Linked DNA regions of Homo sapiens. The protein of the gene in region 1 purifies or fractionates together with the protein of each later gene. This does not show direct contact. Each region holds a gene or a part of one and is shown in the gene's direction. Other genes may lie near its edges.

Evidence for each region.
Region 2: the proteins of ANKRD55 (region 1) and MIB1 purify together in Homo sapiens (affinity purification with mass spectrometry; 3 studies listed by BioGRID and IntAct, with this or other methods). This does not show direct contact.

The regions. Positions count from the first base shown.
Region 1 is NC_000005.10:56,231,771-56,235,526, reverse strand, and holds the start of ANKRD55 (ankyrin repeat domain-containing protein 55), read left to right. Parts: upstream 1-2,196; 5' UTR 2,197-2,286; intron 2,287-2,580; 5' UTR 2,581-2,613; coding exon 2,614-2,671; intron 2,672-3,756.
Region 2 is NC_000018.10:21,743,691-21,747,446, forward strand, and holds part of MIB1 (E3 ubiquitin-protein ligase MIB1), read left to right. Parts: intron 1-3,756. UniProt on the Homo sapiens protein: E3 ubiquitin-protein ligase that mediates ubiquitination of Delta receptors, which act as ligands of Notch proteins.

The DNA.
Region 1 (3,756 bases):
GAGAATCAGCATTGTTGTGCACGGCAGCTGCCTCAAGGAAGGCCAATACAGTTTCCTCAGGCAATTCAGAGTCAATCTTCTCAGACTGAGGTGAAAAGGCTGCTACCACTGGAGATGGGGAGGCTGCTTCTACTAGGGATTGGGAGTCCACTTCCACTGGCAAAGAAGACTCCTCAGAGTTTAGATGCTCAGTGTCCCCCAGCTTCATCAGGGTCTTCTCACATGTCTCTATCCAATTTACAGTATCCTCTACTTTCCCAATCAATGTCCTCACTTTAACAGCAGACATCCTGTGAAGCTGGGAGTTTGACTTGCGCTGTAATTCAGGAGTTCAATTTGCATTGTAATTCAGGCAGCTGCAGCATGAGAGCCTGCATTTGATTGCAGCATCCTCAGCCTCATGGCTACAGGAGGTAAGACTCTCCTTCAGGGTACACATACACACCTCCAGGTCATCTATATGGCACCTGAGCTGGGAATTAGAATCCGTGAGCTAATCCTTTTCTTTCATCACTTTGTCCAGTGACATTAGGAGCAACCAGCCATATTCATTAAGTTTCCAAAAATGTTTGAGGGTATCATCTACACAGTCACCCAACTCCTTGCCTGTTGTGTCCAGTGATTAATTAGGAATATTCAGTGCAGCTTTTTGCATATCTCTATTACCACTTCACACCATGGACTATCAATGCTCTCTTTACTCCTAGAAATAAAGCTATTAGAATCCTTAAATTTAATCAGATTTGAGAGCCAATTCCAGAAACCCTAGAACCAATCCTCAAGTACATGGTTTCTTGTTTAGACTAGAAAATTTCAAGGACTACAGAAGTTCTTGTCAGAAAGTTCTTACCCCATGAAGGATGGTTAATTGGGTTCCAATGTTACAATGTCAGTGAGCAGGTTGTCAGCTTGAGCAAGGAAAGTTCTTCAGTGAAGTTTCACTCATGCACTGAAATGTACTGAGCACCTCCTTTGTGCCCCTCTCTGTGCTAGGCTGTAAGGACATGGAGTGGACAAAGCAGACAAAGAAAGAGTAGACAAAGACCCTGCCCTTATGAAATGTACCCTCTTGTGGAGAAATATTTTAATTTGGGTTTCCGTAAAAGCAGACCCTGAGACAATGATTCCAATGCAAGTAACTTATTGAGAAGTGCAGGAAATATCAGTAGGAACGTGGGAAAGTAATACAGGGAGGGAACAGCAGCCCATAAAAAGAACGTTATTAGACCTATTCTCACAGGTGGCAGTGGAGTTTAACCCTGAAGGAGTTTAATCCTGAAAGGGAAATGGCAAACGGAGTAAAACACCATGCCTCAGAATCATCCTATCCAAGGGCAAAGGAAGCTGGTGTTTATTATTAGATTCAACAAGCATCTACTATATGGCTATTTGACTTATCCAAAAATCTGGTTGTGCCTAGAATATAGAACTTTGTTTGAATTTAGTATATCATATTTTTATTACAAATACAAGATAATAGATACTGGTTATTAACAAGCCAAAAATACAGAGATTGATACAGAACAAGTTAGAAATCTCCTACTCTAATCACAGTGGCCTGAGGGAACCAATATTAGCAGTTTAGTACGTATCTTTCTACATCTTTTTCAGTGTTCGTCTGAATATATAAAAATAATGTATACAGTGAGTGGTTTCCGGTTTTATTAAAACACGAACAAATGAAATATATAACTTGTTTATTTCATTTAACAATAGATTAGTGACATGTCACCAGATAAATACACAGATTTATTTATGTCAGATTTTTAAATCTAGAGTACGAATTTACTACCATTTACTTAGCTGCTCCCTGAATGAGGTACATTCGGGTGATTTTTCAGGTTTTACTACATGTAATGCTACAATAAACACCCTTGTGACAGCAGACTGTTTTAATTTTATCACCACAGACACTCGAGCCTTGAAATGTCACCTTTCAAATGACGCCTTTCCCCATCCTCCCTGTCAATTGGAGAACGGAGCTGAAAGGGGAGTGAAGAAGACTGCCAACATGGATAATTACTCCACACAGCACATGGCCAGCAGCCTCCTGCTACAATATTTACATCCTATTCCATTGAGATGGCACTCTCTGCTCACATGACCCAAATGCAGTTCTCACTCCGCCAAAAGCACAGCCGAATGCGAACTGCATTGGCAGCTTTGCACATGCTCTGTCTGGCCCTGTGAATCCTCACTCACCCATTCAGATTTCTGTTGGTGTAAAGCGACATTCCAGCTGCTGAAGCTCCGTGATCTGCTGTGTTTTTCCAGCCCAGATCCAAGGCAGGTGGCCCATACAATTTTACTATCTTTTTGGAGTTTGAGTAATTGTGTTTATTGATTTGGGGGTGGAGGGTGTATTATGCCCATGTACAGCTGATGAATGAGGCCATAGAGTAACTCTTTTCCTAGCAGGTATTTACAGGAATAGCATTTACCTATTTTCATCACCTTGCCTTGACAACAACCTGCAGCTCTGATGCACATTTAATCCTGAAACAGAGGTCTTGGCAAACGATGCTGCCTCTGACTGTCATGTTGACAGTAAGGTTTGAGATGGTGTTTTCTCCTCTCTAGAGACCTGGATGCTTTTTGCCATTCTGATGGTAAATGATGAGACAGGCTACCATGGATTTCAGCACCCCTTCTGTGTTTGATCAGCAAAGAGGTAAAATGCTGCTTTAACACATTCTTTGGTTGTTAGCATCCTTAGTCTCATGGTATGGATTTACAGTTGTAAGGAGAGAAAGAGAAGTGTGTGTGTGTGTGTGTGTGTGTTCATGTGCGTGGGTGTGCATGAGTATTTGCTATGTAGGATGTGGAAAGAGGATTTCACCTAGAAAACAAACCTGTTCAAAATGTTCACTTCTAGTTTGATAAGCATCTGAAACAGAAAAATAAGCTTATGATCTGTTGTATAAGCTTATGATCTTGTTGAAGTATTCCTACCTTCAAATTTTAAAAACTGGATTTCAAGCACACCAACTATTTCAGATAGTGTCATCTTTATTCTGTTTTTTCCAAATCTTTTTTAAAAATTAGGGTAAGCAATGTAAGAACACATCACATTTTTTTTGTCATTCGATTAGCCCAGTATCTCATTGCTGTATCTTCGTAAGCATTTTTTTATTCCTTTCAGGAATAGATGTTGCCTGTATTTATGTCGGGTTGATATGTTATCTCATCCAAGGTTGTGTAATGACATATCCCTATGCTATTATTTGCAATGCCAGGGTATATCTTCCTTACTTATAATTTCTGGAGTGGAGGTAATTTTCCACATCAAAATGTTGCTGTGAGATCAACTTATCCTTATAATATCACATATTTGGCCATGTGGTCTATGTGTATACATTTTGCATATGCAATGTGTTTATATACATCTTCGTGTAATACTTATGTGTAATAGTAAATCTTTTTTTAGTATAAACATGAAATTTCCATTTTATAAACATAATAAATATTTTTTAGAATCTTTTCTTAAATATCTATTATTTAAACCACTTTCTACAGTCTCTGAATATTCTTCAAGATCCTAAGTTCCTTTGGTGATTTTATCTGTTTTGGCTACAACATGAAATGGTGGTTTGAAAAAGCCTCATTAAGAAAATGTACTGCTTCATTCTTTTTTCCCTTTTCCTGCTCTAGGCCATAGCATGTTTATTACCCCTCAAGCTACATCTGGCTTTGTGGGTGAATTATTTTAGCCCAGGGGGTTTCTCCAAAAATAAATTTATATTTAGATTCCTGAGT
Region 2 (3,756 bases), on another chromosome or scaffold:
CGTGCTAGCTCAAGCTAAAGTCTGACCACAACCCTTATTTGGAGGAATTCTTGGTATCAGTAATTGTAGCTTTATGAGGAAATTTAAGTATCTAGGGTAAAGTGTAACAGATTCTTTACTACGGTGATTTTTGAAGGGACATTAATGTTATCTATATGTTTGTAGTATGGGGTGTATCTATCATATTAATAGTTTTATTATCTTAATATAAACGTAGATGTTTTTCAGAAGTAACTGTTTTAGAATCTTAGTTTAATAAGATAATTTTATACATTAATTTGTTATATGTAGTGGTTTATCTTGTTCATTTGGTCTTTTAACAAACATTTTAAGAGCAGGATAGCCAACCTTCATATGAAATACTTGTTGAAATATATTTTAATTTCAACCTTTTAAATTCTTCAGGGTTTTTTTTTTTTTTTTTTTTTTAGAACTGAGCAAAATTGTAAGCTCCTGGCTCTTGTTTTGCCCCAGGACTATAATACTACTTTCAGTGTTTTCCTTTTTCTTCAAAATATTTAATAATCAGTGTTCACTGACATTTTATTACATTCTATAAGATTACTCAATATTTATTAAGTACTTGATATTTATTTGCATAATATTAACATTTTAAAAATTAACTTTTGTTTTTGAAACAATTGTAGTCTTCCAGAAAAATTACAAAACTAGTAAGAGTTGCCTTTTGCCCTTTACCCACCTTCTTCAGCTGTTAATATCTTAGCAAGTACAATGATCAAAACCAGAAAATTAACACTAATACGGTAATACTGTATTAACTAATCTATACACCTTATTCAAATTTTATTTATTCAAATTATATGCAGTGGTTATTATTAGTGTCCTACTAGTATTCTTTTTCTCATCCAAGATCACACGTTGCATTTAGTGGTCTCTTCCAATCTGGGTGAGTTCCTCAGTCTTTAGTCAGTGTCAAAGTAATGAAAAACAATCTTGTTATCTCTCAAATTGGGTGTTTCTGCTGCTTTTTCATGATTAAATTCAGATTATGTATTTTCGGCAAGAATATCATAGAAATGATGTTTTGCCCTTGTTAGTGCATCGTACCAGGAGGTACATGGTGTTCGTATGTCTCATTAATTATAGCGTTAACTCGGCTAGGTCACCAGGAATTTTACCAACTGTTGCTTTTGTACCAGCAATGTGATGCCAGTATGAAAAAGATAACTTGTATCTTACATATTATTGTGAAAATACTTTTGACTTCATGAAGTCCCTCAAAGGGTCTTGAGGATTTCCCTAGAGGTTGAAGAATAACACTTTAAAAGTCACTGCCCTGGAGAGAATCTCTATTTGAGCACATAGAAGCTTGTATAAGAATGTTCACAGCAGTTACTATGGTTTTGAGATAAATAAAATTTAAAAAAGAATGTTCACAGCAGTGTTGCATGTAAAAACAGAAAATTGGAAAAAACTTAAATGTACCTTAGCAGGAGACTGGATAAGTTGTATGAATTTGTATAGTGCAGTACTGTATAGAAGAGAATGTTAAGCAAATAAAGTAAGTTGCAAAAGAAAACCTACGGTCTGTTAAAGTGCGGAACAAAACTATTTTAGGGTAGGGTTTTGCAGCCTTGGCACTATTGACATTTTGAATTGGATAGGATAATTTTTTGTTATAGGAATGTCCTGTGCATTGTAGGCAGGCATCCCTGGCCTCTACCCATTAGCAGCAGTAGCACCCCACCTCCTTGTGGCAACCCACAATATCTCCAGACATTGCCAGATGTCCCCTAGTGGGGGCAAAATTGCTCCCAATTGAGACTCATTGGTTTAGGGATATGTACATGCGTGGTAAAAGTATGCCACGTAAAGGTAAGATAAACACTAAATTTAAGAGAGTGGGACATCCTTATGGTGAAGGGAGTGGAGAGCACGATTGGTGGAAGTACACCAGGGGCATTTAAGTATTTTGGTAATGTTCTGTGATTAAACCTACCCCATGGTGAGTGCATAGGTGTTAAACACACACACACACACACACACACACACACACACAAAATTTTATTTTTTTTGAGACAGTCTCCCTCTGTGGTCCAGGCTGGAATGCAGTGGTGTGACCTCGGCTCACTGCAACCTCCGTCCCCCAGGTTCAAGCAATTCTCCTGTCTCATCCTCCTGAGTAGCTGGAATTACAGGCATGCACCACCACACCTGACTAACTTTTGTATTTTTGGTAGAGACGGGGTTTCACCATGTTGGCCAGGCTGGTCTCGAACACCTGACCTCAAGTGATCCATAGCCTCAGCCTCCCAAAGTGCTGGGATTACAAGTGTGAGCCACCACACCCAGCCCTTTCTATATTTTTGTGTGTGTCATATTTTTGTACTTAATTTAAAAAAAAGCCTTATATTTATCAGAGGGAGAACTGAGGTTGCCTTTGATTATTCATCATTTGTTCCCTAGTTCCACCTATATTATATGAATAGAAAATTTATTGCAGTATGATTGGGAATTAAGAAATGGGTAACCTTCAGCATAAGATTCCTTGCAACTTTTCTGGGAGTTAAGGATTCTGGAGTGGTTGGATCATTGTGAATCTTTCTGATACGATTTTTCTCACTACATTTTGAAGATTTTGTCTGGGAGTTGTATGCGGGTCTCTAATATTTTGGCATATCAGCTTTATTTTTTCTTTCAGGACACACATGATATGTTTGAATTTATGGTCTAGGATAGTTAAACTTTGCAGAGAGGAGCATTTAGTATCTGTTTGAGTGATATAACGTCTGTCTTGTTTCGAGATTCATTTGGCTCATTTGTAGTGAGCAAGAAGATTTTGGGACTATATGGGATGTTATTTAATTAGTTTGGACTAATTTTGTAAAGTCTGTAGTCAAGTAGGTATAGTTGACTTTTTATCATCTAGGCACTGATTTTATAGGAGTTGGAGAAAAATGTGTTTTTATTTATGCTTGCTTTGTGTTCACTTGACTACAGTGTTGTATTGTTACCAGAGATAATGGAGAAAATGAATGTAGATTTCCTGTTAAGGTTCTGTCATTCTTCGTGTCGATAATACAGAGTTAGAGGTATAGAAAATCAGCTTTATTCAAAACCAGCTTCTGGTCATAGTTCATTCAAACTGTTTTGGGGGTAGTTCTTTGTCCTTGTCTTTGACCGCTAGCAAAGAATGCCTCTCCAGTCATACGTGGAAAAACTTCTCAGATGTTTTGTATTCAGTTGAAGGTTTAAAAGGGCTGACCCTGGATTAAAAAAATGAAATGAATTAATAATCCTCAGCTTTTCTTTATCAGAATAGAGTCCCCTATTCTGATCTGTTTCTAGAACCACAGTAGAAAGGGGTATTTGTCAGGACACAAAGCCGTAGGAAAAAACAGGATTTGAGGGAACAATGTTTGGGGAGCAGGATGCCACACCTGGAAAGGATGAAATATCACAAAATGTTTTTTATTAATGACATCTGCAAGGAAAACTTTATTTCCTCATAGATCCTACCTATTTTAAAGGCTTCTGTAAAATGTCTTTCTTATTTTATTTCCTCCACTAAAACAATGTTGTAAATTATGAAAGTCTATCTAGTTCTTAATAGTCCCTGTAGATTGCAGCTTGGTTGAGCTGAGGACTTCAAGAAATCAACTAGTAGACCCCTGTGTCAGTACTTCTCAAACTTAAAGCACACAGATCACCTGGGGACCTTTTAAAATGCAGATTCTGGTTCAGTAAGTTTGGGATTCTGCGAGAGTATTTCTAATAAGCTCATAGGTGATGCAG